2 separate regions of the Homo sapiens genome follow, and region 1 is linked to region 2. The links come from fine-mapping of genetic effects on gene expression. A gene starts in region 2. The other region holds a variant in brackets. All regions are shown on one strand. Distances are from middle to middle. Region 1 overlaps IL2RB (interleukin 2 receptor subunit beta). Region 2 holds the start of IL2RB (interleukin 2 receptor subunit beta).

The links.
Region 1: its variant is fine-mapped to the expression of IL2RB in whole blood (TOPMed, PIP 0.98).

What each region holds. Positions count from the first base shown.
Region 1 is chr22:37,117,340-37,132,568 of GRCh38, forward strand. IL2RB (interleukin 2 receptor subunit beta) reads right to left here. Exons shown (of 10, transcript NM_000878.5): 9 at 15,045-15,129; 10 at 8,504-11,509. The coding sequence ends at 10,757. Among named protein-coding and RNA genes, the nearest start is that of TMPRSS6, 15 kb to the left of the region's middle. RefSeq lists an enhancer at 9,809-9,858. The variant G/A (reference allele first, on the strand shown) is at 10,665.
Region 2 is chr22:37,144,495-37,157,355 of GRCh38, forward strand. IL2RB (interleukin 2 receptor subunit beta) reads right to left here and starts at 5,422. Exons shown (of 10, transcript NM_000878.5): 1 at 5,331-5,422. RefSeq lists enhancers at 3,709-3,758, 5,462-5,484, 5,567-5,598, 5,681-5,792 and a promoter at 5,332-6,287.

The DNA of each region.
Region 1 (15,229 bases), 26 kb before region 2:
AGGAATAAGAATCCACCAGAATGGCCTGTCACCAACAGGTGTGGGACCTCTCAGGAGTCCCCATCTCTGTGGCTTGTCTTCCTCCATCTGTACAGGGATTTAAGGATCCTAAGGCTTAGAATAATCTATGGCTTACAATACAGCTAACCAGACCCAGGATAGGCCTGATCTCCAATAAGAAAAATGGTCACTTCACCCATCTGAGGTGAGAAAGTGGAGTTTCAGAGCAGTGATTTGCTTGATGTCACACAGTCAGGAAGTGCTAGGAGCTGGATTCAAACCCAGGACCCTCTGGCTTCAGAGCCAGTTGTCCTTCCCAGTGACACCTTCTCCTGTCTCTGTGTTCCTTCCCACTGCCCACACCACCACTCCTGAGCCCTCGGCCTCTGTCTCAGCCCTGGGTCCTGGCCTCTGGCCTCTGTCTGAAGATGCTGCTAGGACAAACTCACCACCAGGCCCTGGCATGCCCAGTCGCTTCTTTCCCAGATGGGCAGTCGGGGTACAGATGCTGATCAGGGGTTTGGGGTTTGGGAGGGGCTGCTTCAAGCCACCTTGGGGACACAGAATGGAAACTCTGCATGCATCACTCAGCCTGACCTTCTCCTCCACTGTGGGATTGTAGCAGGTGGGGCTCCCAGAACAGATAGGGGGACTATATTAGTCCATTTTCATGCTGTTATGAAAAAATACCCAAGACTGGGTAATTTATAAAGAAAAAGAGGTTTAATGGCCTCACAGTTCCACATGGCTGCGGAGGCCTCAAAATCATGGCAGAAGGCAAAGGAGGAGTAAGGGCACGTCTTACATGGTGGCGGGCAAGAGTGTGTGCAGGGGAACTGTCCTTTACAAAACCATTAGAGCTCATGAGACTTATTCACTATCACAAGAACGGCATGGGAAAAACCTGCCCCCATGATTCAATTACCTCCCACCTGGTCCTTCCCACTACACGTGGGGATGATGGAAGCTACAATTTGAAATGAGATTTGGGTGGGGACACAGCCAAACCACATCAGGGAGCCAGACCCAGAGAGTGGGTGGAGACTACCCAAGGTTGCACAGCAATGCTGAGGCAGGGCTGGGACTGGAACCCAGGTGACCTGATTCCCAGCCTGTACTCTTCCCAGTATACTGTCCAAAAATGAATTCTAAAAACTAAAACAAAAGAACAATATTACTTATTTCCATATACATAAGGCTTTAGGCAGAGAGTCAACAAAAATTTCCAAAGGACACAAAATTGCAATTTTCAACTTTTTTTTTTTTTTTTTTTTTTTTGCCTCAAAACATTGCAGGCAGAGCCTCCTCTAAAGACAGTCCGGTTTGTGGGACTAGCTCTTGCCCTTGAAGGGGGCCCTGTCCAAGGTCACAGACACCTAAATTTCCCCAAGGAGGCTCTTTCCTGCTGCCCTTTCATGGGAAGACCCCAGCACTCACTCAGGTTCCCCGAGTACCTCTATTCTCCTTGGTCATCTGTGTCAGACAGCTGTTGACTTGGTGGGCCCGAGAGAGCTCCTGATACCAGTCGGCTCTGTTGCCTCTTCCCTCCACGTTGGTTTCTCAGAACCTTGGTCATTCCAGGTTTTCAAAGCCTCTAAGTAACTTCCCCTCCCACCTTTCCTTCCTTCCTTTCTCCTTTTCCTTTTTCCCTCCTCCCCTTTGCCCATTTACCAACCTACACATCCATTCAACGAACAACCTGTGGCAGGTGCTGGGATTCAATAATGGATGGATCACGGAGGATCGAGGATCGTTAACTGGAGAGAGTTGCAGCTGAGCTCAGCAAGCAGGGGGTGGGGGCACGGAGCAGCCAGCACACCTGGGGTCAGGAAGAAGTGATCTTTACAATAAATCCCGCAGGATGCTCTTCCTTTCTCCCTCCCTCTCTACCGTGCAGACACATTTTGCTTGGCTTGCTTGTTTTCTGTTTTTAAAAGATGAGTGGCCAATATTTAAAAATAAGGACACTTTGCAGGAAAAACTGAATTTTCAGCTTCTCTTAAAAATGTAGAAGATCAGGCCTGCGCAGTGGCTCAGGCCTGTAATCCCAGCACTTTGGGAGGTGGAGGCGGGCGGATCACCTGAGGTCGGGAATTCAAGACCAGCCTGACCAACGTGGAGAAACCCCGTCTCTACTGAAAATACAAAATTCGCCAGGCGTGGTGGTGCGTGCCTGTAGTTTCAGCTACTCGGGAGGCTGAGGCAGGAGAATCGCTTGAACCCGGGAGGCTGAGGTTGCGGTGAGCTGAGATCACGCCATTGCACTCCAGCCTAGGCAACAAGAGTGAAACTCTGTCTTAAAAAAAAAAAAAAAAGTAGATGACCTAGCTGATCCCCAACATGGCAACAATCAGCGATGGCTGCCCTGGAGCAATTTCGGTTTGACACAGACCTCACCACTCCCTATTGTATCACACTGCATGGGTTAAAAAGAGTTACTAGAGTCAGGAGCCTGAGTTTGAGTCCTGGCTCCACCACTTATTTGGCCACATGCCCTTGAGCTACAAGGTATTTGATTTTACTGGGCCTTCATTTCCTCATATAGAAAATGAGACAGTAAGCCTAAGTGTTGTGAAGATTGACAGAACCTGTGTGAGGAACTTAGAACGGGGCCCGCATCTACTGGGTGTACACCATCAGCATTTCATCACTGCAGCTAATATCTACCCAAACCCCAGTCCCTGTCAGCATCTGAGTTTGGGATCCCAGCAGCAAAGGTTTCATTGTTAGTTTCATATTTGCATAAATTACAAGCAATAGAATTCTCTCGCCAACATGTACCGTTCCTGGCTGATTGCTCGGACTGACAGTGTAACGGGTGCTCTCCTACACCCACTGTTACGAGAATCACTGGACCGTTGGCCGGGGACGGCCAGCCACCCACCATCAAGCCCGTTCCAAGCAACCCGAGCTCTCTCAAACCGAAATGTCCAATTTGAACAGTCCAGTGCACATAGTAGAAGCTCAATAAATAGATTAGAATGAATGAGCAGTAGTTACTGGGCACAGGGTGGGCTATCTTTTTTTTTTTTCTTTTTTTTTTTTTGAGACAGAGTCTCACTCTGTTGTCCAGGCTGGAGTGCAGTGGCGCGATCTCAGCTCACTGCAGCCTCCGCCTCCTGGGTTCAAGTGATTCTCCTGTCTCAGCTTCCTGAGTAGATGGGGCTACAGGCGCAGGCCACCATGCCCAGCTAATTTTTTTGTATTTTTAGTAGAGATGGGGTTTCACCATGTTGGTCAGGCCGGTCTCAAACTCCTGACCTCAGGTGATCCACCCACCTTGGCCTCCCAAAGTGCTGGGATTACAGGAGTGAGCTACCGCACCCGGCCTTTGAAATTTCACTTCTTCACCCCATTTTAGATGAAGAGACTGAGGCTCAAAGGGGCCAAGTGGTACAGAATTGGGAGGGACAAAATGTCCTCGGCCCTGAGCTAGGCGGGTGGCAGCCAGCACGGCTGGATTTGAGAGGTAGGAAGAAGACCTCATAGGTTTCCTTCAGCATTTGTCACACCTCCTAGAATCTTGTCATCATAGATTTGGGCCTTATCTCAAACCATCATCCCCCAAGACCTACCCAGGTGCTTGAGGGAGATGAGCTGTCAGGATTAGGAGGTTGGAAAGGGCAGGGAGGTGGCAGGAGACACCAAGCCTGCAGGTGTCCAGCTCATCCCCTGCCCCAAACAGCCATCACCAACACAGCAACAGAGTATCCAAAAGGCCAGCCAGCAAGTCAGCAGCTTCCACATCTCTGGCCCCTGGCTGCCCTGGTCACAGCCCTGTCTCTGTCTGTCTCTCCCACGGCTAGCTCTTCTCTCCTAAGTACTTTACATTAACTTACTTCTTTTTTTGTAACAGGGCCTCACTCTGTTGCCCAGGCTGGAGTGCAGTGGCACGATCAATGCTCACTGCAGCCTCAATCTCCTATGCTCAAGGGATCTTCCCACCTCGGCCTCCCTAGTAGCTAGGACTACACGTATGTACCACCATGCCCGGCTAATTTTCTGTATATATTTTTTGTAGACACAGGGTCTCACCATGTTAGCCAGGCTGGTCTTGGACTCCTGGGCTCAAGGGATCCTCCCACCTGGACCTCCCTAAGTGCTGGATTACAGGTGCAAGCCACAGCACCCTGCCACATTCAATTATTTCTTTCATCCTCACAACAGTCCTGGTATTGTCCCCTTTTACAGATGAGAAAACTGAGGCACGGAGAAGCTTAGGTATTTGTCCAAAGTCACAGCTGATAGGCAGCAGGGCCAGTACTTAACCCAGGCTGCGGGGCTCCAGAGTGAGGGGGCCAGTACTTAACCCGGCTGCGGGGCTCCAGAGTGAGGGGGCCAGTACTTAACCCGGCTGCGGGGCTCCAGAGTTAAGGCTATAACCACTATGCCACACTGCCCCAAGGTGTCCACAAAGGCTGAAAGTGTAGAATGAAGGGGGCTTTGCTCGCTGCTGGATCCCCAACACCGTGACTTGCAGGTACTAGGCCCTCCTAAATGTCTGTTGAATGAATAAATGAATGAATGAACAATTCCTTCCTCTTCTAAGAACCATCCTCAAGCAGCTATCCAAAACTACCTGAACTCTGGCTCAGCCTCTCTTGCTAAAGCCCCGCACGGCATTCCACAATTCCTCCCCAGGTTAGAAGACTCCACCAGAGTGTTCACTGGCACCATTTCCTGATCAAGGCTTGTGCTCACAGGACCGGGTTGATTTTCTTCCACACCGAAGGAGGGCTGTGATCAGCTGGTCTACTTGTATGTGTCCTCCAGAGTCACTCCCTCCCAGACAAGGTTGGAGACTCTTTGTGGACAGAGCAGTAGCCGGCCTCCTCTCTGTGGCCAGTGCCCAGCATGAGGCCAGGTAAATAGAGGAATGGGAGATGAGACATTGTCTGCCAGCTCTGCTCCTCCCTCCGTCTGCATCCTGGCTTCCTGGAATCGTAGACTGGGCACTCCCCCCTCCACTACCCGACCTGCGTCTCTCACCACTCAGCGCTTCCTGCCTCACTTTCTGCCAGGCTCTGTGATGGGAGCCTCGAGTGTGTCATAGCCCTGGTGGTGGAAAATGTCTCTAAGCAAGTCAGCCTAGGGGATGTCCCAGGCCTGTCACAGGTGCTGGTGGTGAGCTCAAATTTAATCAACACTCCCTCCCCCACTACCAAACGCACTGTGTGGCCCGGGACACGGCACCGCCATCCCCTCAGGGCCTCTGGGCCTCTACTGAGGAACAAGACTTAGAACCTCTGTCATTCCTATCTTGGTAGGTCACTGTGTGTTTGTGTGGGATACCAGGGGTGCACACCCTTTAGAAGCTGTAAGAAGCTGTGCCATGTGGGTGCTAAATATTGCCTGGGTTCAACTTGCTCCACTACATTCTAGCTGTGTGATCATGGGTAAGTCACTTGGCCACTCTGAGCCATAGGCTCAGCTATAAAATGGGCTAAGAATAGTACCTCCCTCATGGCATTTGCTTAAGGATCCAGTGAGTTAAGGATGCTTCCAGAGAGTGGAAGGATCAATGTGCTTATAACAGAGTCTGACGCATCTAAGTGCTCAATACATGCAGTTCTCGAAGACTTTGAAGGACCGAGAACATTCCACAGTGGCTCTCACAGATCCTTGACCCCAAAGCTGTCCCTCCCCCACTGCCTGTTGATAAAGCCCAAATTGTCAAATAGTGGCTGCTAATCTGCAAGAACAATTCCTCTCTCTTCCAAGCACCATCCTCAATCAACTATAACCAAAACTAGCTGAGTTCCAGTTGAGCCCCCTTGCTAAAGCTCCACCCAACATTCCACCCTCCTTCCCCAATTAGAAGGTCCTTTCAGAGTCTTCTTGTGCCTGGCTTTTCTGACTAAAGTCTTGAGCTAACGGGGCTCTACCTGATGTTCTTCCAAAGCTATTAGTATCACCCTTAGATCCCCAGAATCTAGCCCAGGCTCTGACCCACGGCACAACAGTTGGTTATAACAGAGGTAGCTCAGGAGGGGGACAGTAGGAGGAAGTAATCTACTCTACTTGGGGGCAAATCAGAGGGCCTGCCAGAAGCAGAGATGCTTGAGTGGGGTTCTGAGGGATGCATAGGAACCTGAGGGTAGATAGCTTGGGTGGCAGGGCAGGGCTACTTCAAACCCAGGGATCAGCAGGTGCCAAGCAAATGAGTCAGTTGCAATCCCTACTCTCATCCCCACCCCCCAACCCCAGCGTGAACTCTTGATGTAAAATACATGTAGCCCAGGCCTTAAGCCATATTCCATGTGGCACCTGGAACCACAGAATGTCAGGGCTAGGAGAGCACTTAGAAATCATCCAATCTGCCTGCCCAATTCACAGATGGGGCAACTGAGGCATAAGAGCAGATGGGACCTCCCCAAAGTCCCCCAAGCCATGGACGATCACATTAAGGACCTCAGCCATTATCCTGAAAATGACAGTGGGTCACTGGAGGTTTAGCAAGGATGTGGTGTGGCCAGATACGACCTTTAGCCAGATCAGCCTGGCAGGGCTCAGAGGTGGAAGGATCAGAGGGGCAGGCGGCTGTGGGGACAGGCAGACCGAGGAGGAGGCTGAGCAGGCATACGAGTGAGAGGTGATGGCGTCAGGTCTGTGGCACGGAGGTCACCAGGGTGGGGGTGGGAGAAGCCAGTGAAATGCTGGCCCAGAGGGACACTGGACCAGCTTGGAGGGTGGAGGCAGTAGGAGGGGCTCAGCAGTTACGGAGGAGGAGGAGGTAAGACCACCTCGGCCTGACCAACCAGCATCGCCCTCAGCCTTCTCTCCTGGCCACCGTTCAGCCCCATCTACCTGCCAAACTATCAAAGGGCTTTGCTTTTTCTCCCACAATCACACTAATGGATCATGGCATCTTATTTTCCCCCCGAAGTTGACTGCCAGGAAGCTTAGAATGAAATTTTACCAGGTATTTTCCCATTAGTATAATTATCTCCTATGTAGCCTTCTGTATGCTAAGGGCCAAAAGCTCCGGAGTCAGATGTACCTGAGTTTGAATCCTGATGCTACCAACCATCAGCTGCGTTGCTCCACCTCCCTGGGCCTGTTTCCTAATCAGCAAAATGGGGAATAAAGCACCTGCTTCTCAAGGTTGTTTCCAGATGATGAGAGATGACGCCCAGGCCATGCTGGCACAATGTGTAGAGTGGAAGTATTGGTTCTCTTGCCCCTTCTTACTGTCCTCCTTGGTCTGTTTTTTCAGCTGTCAGTAATGAGGAGGACAGTGGTGGGTGCTTCATCCTGGACCTGGGCCTACAGTTTCCACCATAATTTACTTGGGAAATGCAGGCACCTGAAGTTGCTTCGAATGAGAGATGGGAGGTGGGGGAACGGAGGAAGCAAAATAACAAACCTAGTTCAACAAAGAGGAAACATGAGAGGCTGGAAGGCCCCCCCCTCCCCCCACCTCTCCTCCTTTTTCTCTTACCCCCAAGATCTGCCCTGGCTGCCTCCTGCTTCCCGCTCTGTACCTGACGGTTCTCCAGGGCCCCAGCGGCTGCCCGGTCCCCAGCTGGTGCCGCTCCTGTCTCCTGAATCTGACCCAGGCCCCTCCTGCAATCTGACCACCACCCCTGCCGCCAGCTGCTTCCTCTTTGTCTCCTCTCCCAAGATCCACACTCGGATCCACACTGGGCATGACACACAGTGACCGCTGGCCCATCCCTTCATCTGCACCCGGTATAAGGTGGCCCTGACTCTGCTCCCTGCCAGCTCAAGTCTCTCACCAGACATGGTGGGGACAGCTGGGCTCCCTGGGCTTGCCTCTCACAGGTCCCTCTCAGCTTTCCAGTCTCCATCCTCTCAGCTTCAGTTTTCCCTGCCTGGGAAATCGGAGTTGGGAAACCTAAGAGCTCCTTTTGTGTTAGGAACCTGAGGAATTATGCGGTCCAGAGATGTCATCAGCTATCAGCTGTGACCAACTGGGGGCTGCCTATAGCGCAGCATTGCAGAATCTGAAGCTGCACCCAGGCTCTGCAGGAGGAGAGCTGTGTTCAATTAGAAATGTCTGCCGTGCATGGGTGCAATTGATTAGTAATGTCTGCCATGAGTGTGGCTTTATGAATGCCAGGAATTGCCATCCCTGGTCTGGTCCAACTTTTATCAGGACACTATCTATCTATCATCTATCTACCTATCTGGAGGGAGGGGGATAGAGGGGGGGGGAGAGAGAGAGAGAGAGAGAGAGAGAGAGAGAGAGAGAGAGAGAGAGAGAGAGGAGAGAGAGAGAGATTCGTCATCAAGTGCAATATTTCCCCAGGCATAGACTTGTGGGATATGGCCATGAGCTGATACCTGGACACAGAATAAGACAGACAGTCCTGACTCCTATTAGTGAAAAAGATATTCCCTTTACAATCCTTTTCCTTTCTCTCAAGGAGGAAGTTTGCATTTGGCCCTGGGATGTCTTCGACAGCTCCCCAGCAGCTTCTCATTTCCCCTTTAAGAGACAACAGGTTTACCGCAGGCAATGAATATCAACACTATTTTGTTGCATTGTACTTATTTTGTACAGTTACCTTTTATTTATAGCGAAAATGGGTTTTTTCATTTACAGAGTAACAAAGATTTTTCTTTAAATAAATGTATTTCAACGAAAATGAACTGACTTAAAGAAAAAATATTAAGGAAATAATCACAAAGATGGTACACACGGATCATTAAAAGATACGGATGTATAGATACATATGTCACAAATGATTAAGACTTAAAAAATGTAACCCTCCCAAGAAGTGGGAGCCTCCCAAAGTGGAGAAGGCAAATACAATTTCCATTTGGGGGGATAAGGAGACCGACTTGCAGAGAGGATTAGTAGGTTGCCCCAGAACACACAGCAAAGGTGTGGAGCCCCTTGTGGTCTGAAACATTCAGGACCCTATGGCAGGAGGTGAGACTGTCCAATAATTCAGCTTTTTTCAAGGCATAGACCCAAGACTCAGACAACCTCAAGAAAGGGGAGTTTATTTTGGATATAAAGGCAACAGGAATCCTGACCAAATGGTCAGCAGCCCTCTCAGCAGTAGGTATTTTTGTATTGGGAACCCAAGGTCCTCTGCTTAGTGGCTCAACGCTTGTCTACCTTTCCAAGGCTCAACGCTTGTGGAGCCTTGTCCACAAGCACCTGCTCCCAAGGGCCTCCCTCCCTGAGTTCAAACGCCCAAGACAGAGTTGATCTGATTGGCTAGTTCAGGCCCAGCCTACCTGATTGGACAGAGCTTGGTGCCAAACCCCCTCATAGGCTGCTGGTCAGAGCCTGTGGGGGCGTGTGGTCAGGTGCCCAATCAGCTGTGAGCAAGGCCTGTAAGTGCAGGTGCCTGAGGGCTCCCAGGTCAGAGTTAGCTGGGACTGGGGTCACTGTCCTGCTGGGGTGGAATGTTGTTTGAGCCATTGCAACGTGATCTGCCTAGGAAAGATACGTGGAGGGGTCGGGGTAGGGGGTTGAGCCCCTTGCAGGAGGGGGCATGCCAGACCTAATGGGCACGGGACTCTGCCTCTCTGTGTGAATGTCAGGCGCAGGGAGCCCAGACGAGGTGGTGCCAGGTAATTAATTCGTTCATCCAGGGTATACGACGGGGTGTTGGGCACTGTGTCTGGGGCAGTGAAAAATAATGAGGCCCTGCCCTGTGGAGCTGCCCTTCTGGAGGCCAGTGTGCCAGTCCCTGAGCTGCAGAGGAGACCCCTCCAGTGGAGGGGGCAGTGGGAGGTCCCAGGCCTGGCAGCATCAGGGCCCACCACTAGGCGGGGCTGCTGCCTGGGCCTCGGACTCCAGGGTTTACTCCCCATCAGCTTCTCTTGTGGGTCTGTGAAGCCACTGTGGGAAGATGCAGCAGGCATCCACTTTGTGGGGGGATCTGTGCCCTTACTTGGGCCCCAGCATTAAAGATACAGCAGCCAAGCACTCTGAGGCCTCAGAGATCCCAAAGGAATAGTAACAGGGCCTCTTTCTCCAGGCGCCCTGGGTCCCTGACAGCTTCTCCCTCCAGCACTGACGCTAGAAGTTTCTGGCAGATTAAGGGAGGCAGTGCTTCCCTCCAGGAGAAGCAAAACCGGCACTTGAAGAGTCAGGGAAGTTTGTCACCTAGATGAGGGGGAGCGCACAGCAGCCCCAGGGAATAGCATGTGCAACAGAGGGGGTGTGAGGGAGCTCTGAGTGGCTCAGGAGGACGGTAGGGAGGATTGCAGAAGGGGATGTCCCCACACGACACCGGAGGTACAAGTACCAGGCTGAGAAGTGGGGCTGAGGGCAGTGGGACCTGTGCAAGGTTTTGAACCGAGGGGGAGCGTGGCCATATTTGGGTTTTGGAAAGCACGCTCAGGCTGCCCTGTGGACGGGGAGGGGAGGGAAGGAGGAGGCTGGGGCAGAAAACCCAGGGAAGAGGTCAGGGCAGGGAGCCCTGGAGAGCCGCGAGGACTGATATTGGTGAATAGCTGCAGGGCTGGAGAGGAGCGATGCTTCTGAGCCTAAATTCGTGGGATCCTGTGATTAACGAGGGAGTTGGGGAGTTACTGCCCCCCTGCAACACACACAGTTCCTGGCTCGGGCAGCAGGACCCGGGAGCAGCAGTGGAGGTTTGGAAATGGATGGACCAAGTGTGCAGGACTGGGTGGGGGCCATCCGGGTGGAGAAGTCCAGCTGCAACTGGACACTGAGT[G/A]TCCTCAGCAGTGGACTGAGGACCCTCAACAGGGTCCTTCTGAGGCTCGGCGCAGAGCAGGCAGCTGCCTGCCTCCCACCCTGGCCATCTGTCTACACCAAGTGAGTTGGGTCCTGACCCTGGAGTTCTTGGAGGGACAAGTAGGCATCAGTGTTCAGGGGCAGGCGAGCATTAAGGGCCCTGAACTCCCCCTGCCCAGGAGGCCTGGACCAGGGGAAACTGACTCCCTCCCTGGGGCCAGCGTCAGGGACCTCCTCCCCAGCCTCTCGCAGCACCAGCTCAGGGGGTGGCTGAAAATCCACCAGGTCTGGGACTCCTGGGGTGGGAGGCCCCAGGGGCTGGGGGTCCCAGTCTCTGGGGACTCTTTCTTGCAAAGAAGGGGGCATCCTCTCTTCACCGGCCCCACTGCCCCCAGGGGCAGTGCTTGGGGGGCTGGGGCCACCGAGGAGACTGGGGGAGAAGAGCAGCAGGTCATCCCTGGAGGGGAAGGTGCAGTAGGCGTCGTCCTCCCCTGACAGAGGCTGCAGGGGTTGGGGGGAAGACCCTGTGGGTGCCCCGGCCACACCCTCATCAGGGTCTTCCTCTGAGTAGGGGTCGTAAGTAAAGTACACCTGGCAGGCCTCTATCTCCAAGGCATCCGGGAGGTGGAAGAAGAAGTAACCCTGGTTGGTGAAGCAGCTGGTCAGCGAGTGGTTGCTGCTTAAGGATGCGGGCTCAGGCACCTTGTCCTGCTGCAGGAGCAGCTGCGTCACCTTGTCCCTCTCCAGCACTTCTAGTGGCGAGATCTCAGGTGCCAGGCCGCCAGGGCTGAAGGACGATGAGGGGAAGGGCGAAGAGAGCCACTTCTGGTGGGAGAAAGGCCAGGGGTGGGTGAGTGGGGGCTTCCTTCACCCTCCACCCCTTCCTCTGGACTCTCAACAGCTCCTAACTCCTCCTCCTCCTGAAGCAGTTGGCCCAGGGCTGCCCCATCCAGGAAGCTCTCCCTGATTATAGCCCCGCACTCCCCCAACCCACCCACTGGCTTGGGGGCCCTCTGGGCCACCAGCCCAGGGACACTGCCTGACCCACAGCCCAGCACAGGCCTGCCTGGCTGCCAGTAGTGCCCAGGAATGTCTGATTGCTCAAGAGTGACTGTTTATTGGACACCTGCTATGAGCCTGGCACTGTTCTAGATGCTGGGGACCCAGGAAAGGAGAGAATCCTCAGACTGTCTAGTGGGCACTAGCACAAGTGTGGGAATCGATCCACCCATGCCAAAGCAGAAGGGCACTGAGAGTACAGCCTGTTCACCCTACAGATGCCCAGAGACGGGACATGCCCTGGCCCTGATCACAGACCAGCAGGCGGCAGAGCTGGGACCCAGGGTCTCCGCTTACACTGTGGTGGGAACGTCTCTTGGGGGAGCTGATGGTTTCCTGATTCACCTTTCCCCCAGTTCCCTGCAGTCCCCACCCCCACCCCCTCCGCCTCCCATCCCCAGAGAGAGGAAAGTGCCCATCAGAGCACTTCTCAGTTGCTCGGGATTCCAGAGAGCCCTGGCAAGGAGTGGGAAGACCCGGGTTCTAGCCCTGGCCCTGGCACTCACTAACTGTGTGACCCTGGGAGGGCCCCTGCACCTCTCTGGGCCTCAGTTTCCACAACAGCCACGTCTCTCCTGACTTCCTTGCTGTCACCCATCAGGTCACCAAGGAGACATCAGGTAAGCAAATGGAGATGTAAACACCCAAAACGGGTAAGACACAGACTGCACAGCAGAGTGGGGGACAGCAGGCCCTCCTGGTGGTGTGGCAGGGGCCTCGGGTGGGTGAGTTTGGGAGCCCTGACAACCCTCTGTCCTGGGAACCCTCAGCAGCTGGACTATGGCCCCCTAAGCACAGGGGCCAGGCCCAATGGGCTCCCCAGGCCTCTGTGCCCAGCATGGCGGGTCTCATGGATCTATTTCAGATGAATTAATGAACCAGCAACAAATGCCCAGTTCTCCTCTCCAGGGAGAGTCCCTGAGGCTGAGCCAGCTGCTCCGCAGACACACACACACACGCTTACATGCATGCACACATGCACACACGTGCACACACCACTCAATTAAATCCGCCCCCTTTCTGCAACCAGGAGTTATGTCACAAAAGAAAAGGCTGAGAGAGGCAGAAAGGATAAACTGAGGATGGCAAAGAGGGTCGCTGGCTGGGCAGAGAGGAAGAAGCACTGGTCGGGTGAGATTCATGATACCCAGGGCAAGGGCGGGGCCAGACAGCAGCCCTGTGTGTGCAGCCAGAGAGGGAGCGGCCAGGCCTGTGGCCAGTGCCGGTGAGCCAGGGACCCACTGCCTGTGGCCAGCTACTTCCTGGGCCTGAGCCTCTGCCCACAATGCCCTGAAAGGGGCTTCAGGAGACACTCACGCCCCTCACACATACTCCCACACTCGCACACACGTTCCACGATCCCCTGGGAAGTGGGGGTGGGCCTTGTGGCCCCTGTGGGTCCTAGGGTGGAGGGGTAGGTCTCTCACCCAGATGCAGAAAAGGTGGGGCCTGCTTTGCCATCCCCAACCCCCAGCCACATCATGCCTTCTTCCTCAGGACCCCGCTCCACACACTAGACCCAAGGATACCATACCCTCATGGGAAGCTGGAATGGTTTGCAGCTCCCACCTCACGATGTTGTAGGTTCATAGAATCAGGACTTGAAGCTGGAAGGTATCTGAGCATGCAGCTAATCTACCGCAGCCTCCAACCAGTTCAATGGGAGAATCTCTATGCTTCTGACACATAGGCAACCATGGCTTGCTTGAATACCTTTATAGATGGGAATCTTGCTACCCTCAAGGCTGAGGGAAGAATTTTAAGGAAATACATTCCCGCACATTAAGAGTACTGCAACTAATGGCCAGGCACGGTGGCGCACGCCTGTAATCCCAGCACTTTGGGAGGCCGAGGCGGGCAGATCACCTGAGATCAGGAGTTCAAGACCAGCCTGGCCAACATGGCAAAACCCCGTCTCTATTAAAAGTACAAGAATTAGCCAAGTGTGGTGGTGTGTGCTTGTAGTCCCAGCTACTCGGGAGACTGAGGCAGGAGCATCGGTTGAACCCAGGAGGCAGAGTTTGCAGTGAGCTGAGGTCGTGCCATTGCACTCTAGCCTGGACGACAGAGCAAGACTCCATCTCAAAAAATAAATAAATAAATAAATAAATAAAAGCACTGCAACTAAGATATTCTCATCTTGGGAGTTTTCCAAGGAGTTCCAGAAGGGGCCCTTGATCAGCCCTGATAGAGAACTCCAAAGCCAGGTCATGACAGCTCTGGTCCGGCATGGCTTTCCTCCTCCGCCACTCTTCTTGACCTCCCTCTGCCCCTACCTCATCCCCACCCCCCAATCTTGGGAGCCTAGAGTGGGGCTAGGGTGGTAAAAAGTACCCCCCATGTCCCCCCTTCATTCTTGAAGCTTCCTGCCTGAAGGGGGCATGGGCTGGGGAAGAGGAGACGACGGAATCTGAGATGGAGTTTAGAGCGTTACTGATCTGCGGGCCGGCACTTTAAAAATGAATCGGTGTTTTGTGACTCAAAGTGACGGGAAGACTTGTTAGTATCCACGCTAAGTTATGGAGCCTGCTCAGGAATTTTGAGCAGGGACAGGAGAAGCACAGAGCATGTCTGCACAGACAGTGGGGTGGAGAGAGCTTGTGCTGGCAGGTCCTGTTCGTTCAGCACACCGGCAACGGTAATACCAGATAGGGTACTTTTTTTTTTTTTTTGAGATGGAGTCTCACTCTGTCGCCCAGGCTGGAGTGCAGTGGTGCCATCTCAGCTCACTGTAACCTCCGCCTCCTGGGTTCAAGCGATTCCCCTGTCTCAGCCTCCTGAGTAGCTGGGATTACAGGCATGCACCACCAGCCCGGCTAATTTTTGTATTTTTAGTAGAGACAGGGCTTCACCATGTTGGTCAGGCTGGTCTCGAACTCCTGACCTCGTGATCTACCTGCCACAGCCTCCCAAAGTGCTGGGATTACAGGCATGAACCACTGCACCCAGCCTGATAGGGTTCTTTTGAACACTAACTGCGTGCCAGGCAATGTACTCAGGGCAGGACACATAGTAACACTGTTTTTCTCCTCATCTAACAGGTGGGGAAACTGAGGCCCAGGGAGGCTCTATAGGCCCAAGGTCACACAGCCAGAATGTGGTGGAGCTGGGATTAGAACCCAGGCAGTCTGGCTCAGATGGAAAGTGCCAGAGCTGGAGAAGAGACCCATGCACACCCCGGAGGCTGCTCACTTCGGCGTTTTGTCTCCTCTCACAAAACACAAAATTAGCTACTAACCTGCCACCCCCTCATCCCACTCACACCCCTGCCCACCTCTGTCTCCCCGCCCCGGCCTCCTACCTGGACGTCTCCTCCATGCTCTGAGCTCAGCTGGGAAAAGAACTTCGAGGGGTCTGGGGTGTTACACTTCAGGACCTTCTTCAGCCTGGACAGAGGAGAGGAGGGAAGGAGGAGGGTGAGAAAGGGAAGGACCGCGGTGTTATGCCATCGGCACCACAGCTCTGGATGCCAGGCACGGAGCCGCA
Region 2 (12,861 bases):
AGCACTTTGGGAGGTCGAGGCAGACGAATCACCTGAGGTCAAGAGTTTGAGACCAGCCTGACCAACATGGTGAAACCCTGTCTCTACTAAAAATACAAAAATTAGCCGGGCAAGGTGGTGGGTGCCTGTAGTCCCAGCTACTCGGGAGTCTAAGACAGGAGAATTGCTTGAACCTGGAGGCGGAGTTTGCAGTGAACCGAGATGGCACCACTGCACTCCAGCCTGGACGACAGAGTAAGACTCTGTCTCAAAGAAAAAAATAAAAGAAGCACCCTTTGTTACTCACCACCCCCCTACATTTTCATCATAGCATTATTTATTCATCGTTTATTGACTGATTCATGTTTTCCTCTATCTCTCTTCACAAACACACACAGAGTCACGTAAGCTCACTAAGGACAGGTATTTTTGTGTTTTGTTCATTGCTAGGTCCACAATTCCTAGAACAGTGCCTGGCACATAGTAGGCATCTGGCCAAAAAAAATTCTTGAACAAACAAGTGATGGAATAAATATAGACAGAGCTAAAGTCAGCAGGTAGAGGGGCTTCCAGAGGGCTCTGAGGCTAGCCCCTGCCTCTGCCCCTCACTGTCCCTCGAGGGAGCTGAGGCAATGGTGTGAAGGCATCAGGACGCGAACTCGGAAAAGCAGAAAAGCAGATAGGAGCTCTGACCCAAACACTGAAGAGCCCTAGAGGACAGGGGAAACTGAGGCACAGAGGGCTGCAGTAGCCTTTACGGAGGACCTTGTCCACACTCGTACTCCCCTACCTGCCTGGAAGCTCCCTGGAGGCAGGGCCAGGTTGGTCACCCAGATTATACCCCAGGGAGGAAAGAGACATGAAATCTCTAAGCCAGCCCTGTCAGAGGGAGGCTCAAAAGTTTTCCCGGAGTGCCTATTATGCACTGGCCACTGGCCAGTGCTTTATTTATTTACTTTTTTTTTTTGAGACAAAGACTTGCTTCTCAGGGAACCTCTAGCCAACCGTGGAAGCTCCCGTGAGGCAAGACCACAACTGTCGCAGCGGAAATGGGAAAGAAAAGTAGCTGCCCCCACCCTCTGCAGGGGCTGGGTGTGCGGAGGGGAATGAGAAAGTGAGCACATGGTCACTTCGGGAAGATAAGGGGACTGCTTCCAGGAGAGGTGTTTGGAGCAGGCAAAGGGGGAGGCAGGGAGATGAGGAGGGAGCTTCCAGGGAAAGATGAGGGTAGCCTCAGTCAGAGGGGCAGGGGGAGAGGGGAGAGGAGCAGGTGAGTCAAGAGATGTGGAGGAGGTGGAACATCCTTCCCTCCCTCCTGCTCTTCCATCTCGAGAGCTTCCAAGGCTCCTGAGCGTTGGGCATTTCCCCCGCTGTTCCCCCTTCTCCAGCGGCTCCAAACTCGAGCTCTCACTCCCCTTCCCTTCTCTCTCTTGAGCCTCTCACTGGCTCCAGCCCTCAGCTTCCCAGGGTCTTTCTCCAGCTCAGCCCCAAGCCTCCACGTCCCTCCCGATGGTCTGCAGGACCCCCTCACAGGGGATGCTCCTGGACCCGGCAAAAACCCAGCTCATCCCCAGCTCTTCTCCTGTCTGACTTTCAGTTCTGGGACAACTGTACCCTTCCTATTCCAGGTGACCTTTGCCCCCATACCTAGCCAGTCAGGACTCTCCTCAGACAGCAGGACACTCCAGTGACTACTTGTTGTCTCTTCCCCACCCTCACCAGGCCAGCCTCGTGCCGTTCCAGCCCAGACAACGGCACCACCCCATCTGCAGGCTCTCACCTGCCTTCCCTGAAGCCCGCCTCCAACCACCCACATCCCTGCCCAGGAACCTGCAGTGGCCCTGTTGCAATCAAAGCCTAAATTCCCATTTTCGAGGCTTTCTGGGACCGGAATGAGGTCAGCCCACCCTTCCAGACCCTGCCCTCACAGGAGCAGGTGCATGTACCCAGGCCAAAGCACACACACACCGCACCTACCTGCCTGCACAAGCCAGTGGCTCCAGGTGACCAGGAAACCGACACTCACCCTCCAAAGGTCCTTCCCAAGTCTATCCTTTCCCTGGGTCCCCTACAGATCCTGCCATCCTTCAAGCCCATTTCAAACGGGCCCTCATGCCTTTTTCCATGAAGCCTTCCCTGATTTCCGTGATGGAGGGCGAGGGCTTCCTCTTCTGAGCGCCTTGCTCCTCCCTCTAGGCTGGCAGCAGCAGGGCCGGCGTTGACCAGGGGCTGGCCCACCAGCACACTCGCTCCAGGGACTGCTGAGCACAGGGCCGGGCACACAGTCGGTGCTCAATAAATGTAGTGAAATGAATGAGTGTGGTCAGAGGCCTCAGTACGGCAAAAAAAAAAAAGCAGAGCTCTTTAGGTGGCCCTGGATTGTCTCGTGGCTTACATCAGAGCCAGCATGGAGCAGGGACACACACCCTGGCCCCAAGAGCCATGGGTTCCATCTCCTAAGGCAGATGTCACAGGAGTGAGAGTCAGAGGCCCACGCACTGTCAAAGCTGCAAAGGCTCTCTGAGCAAGCACAGTCCCTTGTTCTACATTTGAGAACACTGAGGTCCCGAAGTGGGAAAGACTTGCTGAAGGTTACATCAGGAGCCCAGCACAGAGCTGGGATCAGAACCCAACTCCACGCCGCTCTGCCACCCCCTTAGTCACACCAAAACCATCGGCTGACAGGTTACTGTAAGCCAGGCTCCATTTAAAACTCTTTAAATGCAGCAATCAGGGCCTCTGGCGGGGATACTCTTATTATCCCCATTTTCCAATGAGGAAACGGAGGCACACAGAGGTGAAGTGCGTTGCCTAAGGTCATGCAGTGGATAAGAGGCCTTTCTGGAATCTGAGTCAGGGCAGACTGCCCAGTGCCCAGGCAGGGATCCTCCCCTCCTGGAACTCCCCAGACGCATCTTCCCACCACGACAGCTCACACGACAGTAAATATGCACTGGTGAACTAATAATACTCGTTCTGTGTACTGAGCACATACTCTATGCTAGGCCTGGGGCCAAGTGCCTCACATATGCCAGCTCGTCTAAGCTGCCCAATGGCTTTATTATCCCATTCTACAGATGAGGAAACTAAGGCTCCAAGCCCCTAACTTGCCCAGGGTCATAAACACAGTAAGAGGTGGAGCTAGGGCTCCAGGCTCACTCTCTCATGCTGTCCCACCCTGCCAGACACTGGTCCCAGAGGTAAGGCTGCCACCCTCTCTGTCCTGGGAGTCAGGACCCAGCAGCTCACAGACAGACTGGCAGGTGCTTATTCGGGGTACCATGGGCTCGCCTTTGCCTGGCCTACCGTCTCCACAGGAGGGTGAGCTCCCCAGGGTGGGGGCTGCTCACCTCTTTCTTGGGATCCCCCAATAGCAGAGGGCACAGGGTTGGGACCCCAAAGAGTGCATAGCCCAACCAGGGGACTCCCATAGCCCCTATGCCCCTTCACGCTCAATCATGCCAACCTGGCCCTGGGGCAAGGGGACCATCAATGTTTTGTGTGGGTGTCACCCCAGGTCGGGCCCAGCCTCAGGATGACCCCATGCCCAGGACAGGAACTGCAGAGAGCCCCAGTGTGTGAGGAAGGTGCTGAGGGACAAAGGGGTGCAAGGTCAAAGGAAGGTTAGGGGTAAACCACAGGCCCAGCCTAGAGGCAGCCGGGCAGGAGGAGAAAGCGCCATCTGGAGTCTGCTTCCCGCCGCCTGGAGCTCAGAGGTGCAGCGATGCTCGGAGAGGGCAGAGTCCACGGGAGGATGGTGTGGGGGTGCCAGAGGGGCACAGAGCTGAGGGAGCGCCTGGCAGTCACTGAGGCTGCACCCTCATTCTGCAATGGGGAAGCTGTGCCTCAGGGAGGCCAAGGAACCCACTTAAGGTTGCACGGTGAGGAGAAGCCCAGCCTCGGGTGACAGCAAGTGGAGCCCAGGACCTCGAGTTTGAGCACCCCCTCCTGGGTCCTCAGGCACACCCACACGTGCCCTGTCGTTCATGACTCTGAAACTGGTCACACCCACGGATGCCTACGTCCCCACCACAGCCCTGCAAGGTGGGTCTTGCTGCCCCATTTGATCCATGCCAGAACTGAAGCCCGGAGCGGCTGACCCCAGCCATCTGATTTTCAGAGAGATGCTGCTGGGGACAGGGACTGGTGCCTGCTCTCTCTCTGCCTACACTGCCTGCCCTGAGCGCTCGGGGGTAGTTCAGCTTTTAGCCCTCCCTACAGCCCCATGAGGAGGCTCTAGTATGCCTCCTTTTTGCCAAATGAGGAGACTAAGAAACGGGTCAACCTCTCACCCAGGCGAGAAGGGCATAGAGCTGGGATTTGAACCTGGTCAGGTGCAGTTCGGGGCCCCTGCTGCCATCAGGGGTATATGGTGGCTGGGGCAGGGTGGTAAAGCAGGAGCTCGGGAGCCCATGGTTCATCCAACTTGACCTCTGAACTCAATGGGGCCTATGTCCCCTCGTCCTCTCTGGCCACCTCCACCTGCCACCCCCCTGCTCCCATACACAGTGCTTGTCTCTTGCTATTTAACTTCAGGGGCTTCTCCAGCTGGGTGCGGGACCCTGGCTGTGGGGGAAGGAAGGGGACCCTTGGGGATAGCTCAGCTCCTCACTCCACCTCCCTCCCCCGAGGTGCTACAAACACAGTTAAGAGTGGGAGGCTTCGGCCCCCAGGAGAGGAGAGAGCATGAGCTCCAGGCAGCCCCAAAGATAGGGTCCCATCCCCAATGTCCGGAGATGCTTCTGACCTGTCCAGTCATGCAGCCAAGGGAGGGACAAACCCAGACTCAAACCCAGGGCTCTGCCTCCAGCCTGGGGCTCCCAGAGGCCTCGCAGCAACTTCACTTCATAGATGGCTCTCCAAGGGGACCCTTCTGTCCCCACTTACTCCACAAGCCTCCTGATGAGCACGCAACACAGGGCTGCCTCCCCCGGTATATGGGCCCCACTCCACAGAGGTCAGGAGGGGGCTCCCGCCTGTCCCACCCCATATCCCGTACCCTCTCCGGGCACCCAGGCTATCCACCCATCCCTTCTCCACCTCTCCGGGTTGGGGGCCCAGCACACAGAGCCCAGGGAAGCCCCTCATCCCACAGCAGTCCCTAGCCTCCCCTGAATGGGTTGGGAAGGAGAGCTGACCTGGGACTGGGGACCGCTTTTTCCTCCAGCCAGGAGCCATGAGAGCTGGGCCCAACCCCTCCCTAGGGGAATTCTAAGACAAAGTTGGGGGATGGGAGTTCAGGCAGAAACTGCTGGGGGAACTGAGTCAGAGCTGAAAGTCTTCTCTGTGACTTTCACTCCCAGCCCTCTGGCTGGTCCACAGGGGCCGGGAGGGAGGCAGGGGGACATCACCTGGCTGAGACATGGGGCGGTGGCAGCGCGCGCTCTCCAGTCCTCCCCGGTGCTGGGACCGTGGCCATCTCTCCAGGGCCCTGCTGAGCTCTGGCTGCTGGGGCCGCAAAGACTAAAAGCCCAGAGCCAGCCCACTTCCTGTGCAGAGGATAGAGGGGCAAGGCCTGGGGTGGAGAGGCGGGGAGACGAGGCTTATGAGAAAGCCTGAAACTCCTCAAGCACCCAGGGCCAGATAAAGATCTGCCTCCTACGCTGGGGGCGGCACACACACACACACACACACACACACACACACACACACACACAGACACACATTGTCAAATAGGGGCCTAGCTGCACACAGGAGCCAAGGGAACGCAGGCCCTCCCTCTCTCCCCTCCTACATCACCCCCACGCCAACTCACACAGGCTACCCAACACCTCTGACGCCTCCATCCGGTCACACACATACCCACTAATACGTAGGCTTCACACAAGCAGGTCCCTCTAGGTGACCCCAGCGTCTCACCCTCCTCCCAGCCTGCAACACACCATCTTTCCGAGACTCCCATTTCACCCAGCCTTCCAGGAAGCCCCTTACTCCGTTTAGCATTCAGAGATGACTGTTTTTTTTAGTTTTTAATTTTGTGGGCATGTGGTAGGTGTCTATATTCATGAGGCACATGAGCTATTTTGATACAGGCATACAATGTATAATAATCACATCAGGGTAAATGGGGTATCCATCACCTCAAGTATTTATCCTTTCTTTGTGTTAAAATCCAAGTATACTCTTTTAGTTATTTTTAAATGTACAATAAATTATTGTTGACTAAAGTCACCCTGTTATGCTATCAAATACTAGATCTTATTCATTCGATCTAATTCTGTTTTCGTACCCAACAACAATCCCCACCCCTCCAACCCCCACTGCCCTTCCCATCTCCATCACTGCCCTTCCCATTTCCATGAATTCAATTGTTTTAATTTTTAGCTCCCACAAATAAGTGAGAACATGTGAGCTTTGTCTTTTTGTGCCTGGCCTGTTTCACTTAACATAATGACCTCCAGTTTCAAACATGTGGTTGCAAAGACAGGATCTCATTCTTTTTCATGGCTGAATAGTACTCCATTGCATATATGTACCACATTTTCTTTATTCATTCATCTGTTGATGGGCACTTAGGTTGCTTCCAAATCCTGGGTATTGTGAACAGTGCTGCAACAAATGTGGGAATGCAGATGTCTCTTCCATATACTGATTTCCTTTCTTCTGGGTATATACTCAGCAGTGGGATTGCTGGATCATATAGTAGTTCTATTTTTAGTGTTTTGAGGACTCTTCAAACTGTTCTTTATAGTGGTTGTACTAATTTACATTCCCACCAACAGTGTACGAGAGTTCCCTTTTCTCCCCACCCTCACCAGCATTCATTATTGCCTGCCTTTTGGATAAAAGTCATTTTAACTGAGGTGAGATAATATCTCATTGTAGTTTTGACATGCATTTCTCTGATGATCAATGATGTTGAGCACCTTTTCATAAACTTATATGTTTTCTTTTGAGAACTGTCTATTCAGATCATTTGCCCAATTTTTGATGGGATTTCTATAATTTTTTTCCATAAAGATGTTTGAGCTCCTTATCTAGTCCAGTTATTAATCCCTTGTCAGATAGTTTGCAAATATTTTCTCCCATTCTGTGGGTTGTCTCTTCACTTTGCTGATTGCATCCTTTGCTGTGTAGAAGCCTTTTAACTTGATGTGATCTCATCTATCATTTCTGCTTTGGTTGCATGTGCTGGTGGGGTATTGCTCAAGAAATCTTTGCCTAGTCCCATGTCCTAAAGAGTTTCCCCAATGTTCCTTTTAGTAGTTTCATAGTTTGAGGTCTCAGATTTAAGTCTTTAATCCATTTGGATTTGATTTTTGTATATGAAGAGAGATGAGGGTCTAGTTTCATTCTTCTGCATATGGATATCCAGTTTTCCCAGCAACATTTATTGAAAAGACTGGCCTTTCCCCAAAGGTATGTTTTTGGCAATTTTGTTGAAAATAAGTTCACTGTAGGTGTGTGGATTTGTTTCTGGGTTCCCTATTCTGACCAATGGTTCATTGGTCAATGCATCTGTTTTTACGCTAGCGCCACGCTGTTTTGGTTACTGTAGCTCTGTGGTATAATTTGAAGTCAGATAATGTGATTTGTCCAGTTTCACTCTTTTTGCTTAGGATGGCTTTGGCTACTCTGCATCTTTTGTGGTTCCATATAAATTTGACGATTATTTTTTCTACTTCTGTGAAGAATGTCATTAGTATTTTGATAGGGATTACATTGAGTCTGTATATTTCTTTGGGTGGTATGGACATTTTAACAATATTGATTCTTCCAATCCATAAACATAGAATATCTTTTTATTTTTTGTGTCCTCTTCAGTTTCTTGCACCAACGTTTTATAGTTTTCATTATAGAGATCTTTCACTTTTTTGGTTACGTTTATTCCTAGGTATTTTATTTTATTTGTAGCTATTCCAAATGGAGTTATTTTCTTGATTTCTTTTTCAGATTGTTTGCTGTTGGTACATAGAAATACTACTAACTTTTGTATGTTGATTTTGTATTCTGCAGCTTAACTGAATTTGTTTATCAGTTCTCATAGTTTTGTGGTGGCGTTTTTAGGCTTTTTGAAATATAAGATAATATCGTCTACAAACAAGGATAATTTGACTTCTTCCTTTCCAATTTGGATGCCCTTTACTTCTTTCTCTTGTCTGTTTGTTCTAGCTAGCACTTCCCAGAGATGACTATCAGGTCTTTGTGAACAATTTGATGGTCACTTACTGAACATTCTAGAACCTTCCTCTTCCTCTCAAGTCATGGTTCCTAACCCTTCTCCCCCTTTTTTGGCGGGGGAGAAGGGTGGCGTGGGAGCTCAGCTCAGGGCTCTTTTTTTTAAATGATGGAAACTTATGGATTGGTCTTTAGAAAAATGCACATCTATTTACGTGCTACATCACAGCCCCATAGACCCTGTGAAGTTCCATCCTCAGAGCCCAGAAGCAGCAGCTCTGCTTCTTCCCTTTCCTGATTCCCTGTTTCAGAGGGGTTTTATTGCAAGCTGTGGCCTCTTTTTTTTTTTTTTTTTTTTTTTGAGACATAGTCTAGCTCTGTCACCCAGGCTGGAGTGCAGTGGCACAATCTCGGCTCACTGCAACCTCTGCCCACAAAGTTCAAGCGATTCTCCTGCCTCGGCTTCCCGAGTAGATGGGATTACAGGCACGTGCTACCATGCCCGGCTAATTTTTGTATTTTCAGTAGAGACGGGGTTTCCCCATGTTGGCCAGGCTGATCTTGAACTCCTGACCTCAGGTGATCCACCTCCCTCGGCCTCCCAAAGTGCTGGGATTACAGGTGTGAGCCACTGCGCCCAGCCTGCCACCTCTTCTGAGAAGAAGAGAGAGAAGAGCAGAGACGGCAGCTCTGCAAATGTGAGAAAAGTGGAATTCAAGACTCCAAAAAGAGAATCAGGCCCAACTCCCATGTGCAAAGCCCGCTGCTGGAAAAGAAGAAGCGTGGAGCACTGCTGCCCAGGAGGGGCAGGACTGGAGATTGAGGCTGTGACTTAGGCCTCCCTGTGCTTCAGTGTGCAGACCTACCAAATGAAGGGAGAACTGGACAAGAAGGTGTGTATAAAGCATTTAATGTGACCACGCACTGCAGGCTTGCTGTAAGGGCCAGTTCCTTCCACACTGCCCTTCCCTCTCCTCTAGAGTAAGGCTGTCTGGCGGCAGGAGAGGATACTAAACACAACAGCCACAACCATGAGAATAACAGCCAACATTTATTAAGCCTCAAATATTCCCAGAAGCTTTGCAAGAAATTAGGAACGCCGGTTGTCTCAGGGAGGAGAGCCAGGTGAGGAAGGGTTAGGAAGGACGCTTTTCTCTATAGACCCTTTTGTATGGCATGAACATATTTCCTGCCCCCAAATAAATGAATTCAGTTAAAACTTTAAAAGCACACACATACAAAGAAAAGAAAAATGCATCCGCAGCCAAAGCCAGAAGTCACAGACCCAGCTTGCAAGGAGCAGCTGCGTACAGCTATTTCATCCATGAGACAGCATCAGTCTGCCTGGCACATACTGCCCAAGACTCTTCTTCCTCCTCATCCTGCTTTCCTTCTTTTATTTATTCAACAAACATTTACTGAGCACCCCAGATGCCCCAAAGACCAGGTCAGACACAGGAAGCCTGAGGCGCGCAGCCCAGGCCAGCGGGGTAGGACCAAGGGAGGGAGGTAGGCCACTCTCCACCCTCGTGCCCCTGAGATGTGCAGCAGCCAGGAAAGTGGGGAGCAGAATGGGGGATGGTGCAGCCCCCACATACAGAGTCTCCCACCCCAGGAGACAGGGGATGGAGCCGGTTTGTTCTTTTGTCAAGGGTCCTAGCCCAGAACACCTCAGATGGAGAGGCAGGGAGGGGGCTACGCAGAGAATGATTCTCCTTCACATCCTCTATGTAACACCTCATGGCCTGTGGGAGCACGTAGGAGGGAAACCTGGTGGAATGGGTCCCCAGGCCATGGCGTGCACCCTCCTCCCGGCATCAGCTCGGGTCTGCTTCCCAGCCTCCCTTGCAGTGAGCTGGGGCTCCAGAACCAAGTCTGGCTAATGGGATGTGGGAGGAAGTGATTTATTCTACTTCTAGGCCTAAAAAAAATCTCACCTATGATCTCCTGTGTCTCTTAATCCCTCTATCTCTCTTTTTTTTTCTTTTTTTTTTTTTGTTTTTTAGACGGAATCTTGCTCTGTAGCCAGGCTGGAGTGCAGTGGCGCGATCTCGGCTCATTGCAAGCTCCGCCTCCCCGGTTCAAACAATTCTCCTGCCTCAGCTTCCCGAGTAGCTGGGATTACAGGCACACACCACCACACCCAGCTAATTTTTGTATTTTCAGTAGAGATGGGGTTTCACCATGTTGGCCAGGACGGTCTCGATCTCCTGACCTCGTGATCTGCCTGCCTTGGCCTCCCTAAGTGCTGGGATTACAGACGTTAGCCACCACGGCCGGCCATCCCTCTATCTCTTTCTCTCTCTCCCCTCCCCTGCCAGAATCCAGTGAAGTTTTGGGTAGAGGGGCTGGAGTCCCTTGAAGGACAGGCCCTCACCCCTCCTCAGACAATTCACACTGGGCTATAACTTGAATGAAAAATAAACCTCTATTGTTGGGCCTCTGAGACCTGGGGACTGCTGTTTCTGTTTTCTCTGACTCATACAGTCTGTCCCCCAGGTGCTACAGCTGAACATAAAACCAGGTGAGGAGGGGTGAGACAGTACGCCAGCAGAAGCCCAGAGGCATGGGTGGCCAGCAGGGGTGTGCAGAGAGGTGCACCTGCTTTCTTCAGCCCCTGCCCTGCTCAGAGCCGTGTCATCTCCCACCTCAGCAGGCCCATGGTGGCCTCCGCCCTGGTCTCCCTGTTTCTATTAATACTCCTGACTCTCTGGTCTGTTCTCCACTCAGCGGCCAGAGCAACCTTTCCCAAACTCAAATCACGTCATTTCACCCCCCAGCCACTCCCCATCATACACACTCAAACCTTCCCAGTGCATTCACAGTAAAATCCAAACTCTCAGTCTTGACCCACATGTCCTACAGGGACTGCCCCATCTTCATCTCTGACCCTGCCTCCTGTGCTTTCTCACTCTGTCAGGGCTTTGTGCATGCTGAGCCTGCTCTTCCCTTGCCATTTTACAGGCCAGGAAACCAGGCCTCATGAGTCATCCTACCAGAATGTGGCAGAGCCAGGATTAGAACCTAGGTCTGTCCCAGAGGACATCCGATTCTCTCTGAGGCAACCTGAGATGTAATCCAGAAGCTTCTCTGATGGCAGAGCCCTGACAGAGCCCACTCGGGCCTACCCAGACCTGGGTCTCAGGAGTGCTGGGGTTTGGACCCAGCCTCCTCCACGAGCTCCACGCCTTGCTCCTATAACTACTTCTCTTACGTCTTCCACATCCCCACCTGACCCTCTGCGCTGCATCTTCATGGGTCCCACTGGGAACAAACCGCCTCATACCCTCTGTTTCCATGCACCCAGTCCCACAGCCCTCCCACCACTGGACCCAGACCCCTCTTTCACAGGGGCCATGGGACAAGGGCATATTGGGGTCTTCCAGCCCTGATGTCCTTGGGCTGTCTTTTTTGGGGCCAAGCCAGACTGCATCCTCCTCAGTCCTGGTATCTGCCAAACGCCCTACCCGTCCTCCCTCTGCTCACTGGAGTGCTTGGCCCTTGCGCTCAGCCTCCCTCTCCACTCCGCCTCCCAGGAGATGTCAGGGTCCACACTGTAGCCTCCAGCCTCCTGTTCCCTCTGAACTGCTCCATACCAGTCCCACACCCAGGCCTGCACTTGCACCCTGCCATCATTCTGACCTGTGTTAACCAAGACCCCTTGAACTTCCACCTCAGCTCACCCGCGTGCTGCCATCACCGCCTCCACTGTACAACAGTGTCCCAGTTAGGATGAAGTTCAGCTGCGTGTGTCCAAAGAGAACAGAAGAAGAAAACAGTGACCTAAAATAAGAGAGGGCTTTATTTCTCTCTTACATAAAAGAAGTCCAAAGGGAGGCCACCCAGGCTAGGTGGGGTGGCTTTATGATGTCAGGATCCTGAGCTAAATCTGGCTTGCTACTAGGGTCTCTTCAATATCCTTCTCCCATCTCCTCATAGACCAAGAGAGCTATTCAAGCTCCACCCATCACCTCTGCGTTCCTGCAGATGGAAGGGAAAGGAAGGAGAGAGGGAGGGCTTGCCTCTGCCTGTTAAGGACCCTTCCCCAAAGCTGCCGTAGCCACTTCTAATGTACATCCCATTGGCTACGCCTGAGTCACATAGCCAACCAAGCTGCAGAGGAGGCTGGGAGATGTAGCCAGCTATAAGTAGAGGGCACACGGGCAGGGGAGAGCAGGTTTGGGGGTGCCATTCACTGTCTCTGCCACCGCCTGTCCTCTGCCATTGTGAAGACCTCCAGTATCTCCAGGGCCACCTCCCTTCCTGCCCTCCCTGGCTCAGCCAGCTGACACTGTCACCCACCCTCAAGTCCTTGTGTTCCGCCCACCCCTGCTCGGTGCTGTGACCTGTCTTCTGGAAAGTCAGCAGGTAGCCGAGTCCCCAGCTGGAAAAAAAGTCCTGCCCCCACAGTGCCAGGCCTCACCAGTGACCTGGTTTTGAGTCCTGGTCCCTGGTCAGGAGGACTATGGTATACATAATTTGGTGTCTGACCCTCCGCCCAGTCCCCATCAGACTGTGGGGTACCCCTCATGACAAATGAGGATCACAAAGCTGCAGGGGCCCACAGAGGGGCCAGAGCAGAACAAGGAGAAAGAGCAGGCTAGCGGCCGACTTCCTGAGGGCTGTCCTCCGAGCATGCCCCTCTGCTGACACCTGCTCTTCACTGGAGGCGCCCCACCCACCAGTCCCCAAGACAGACTGTGGCCATTCTCCCTGACTCCTTCCCTCCCTCACCCCCTCCTTCCAAGCCATCACCCTTACTTC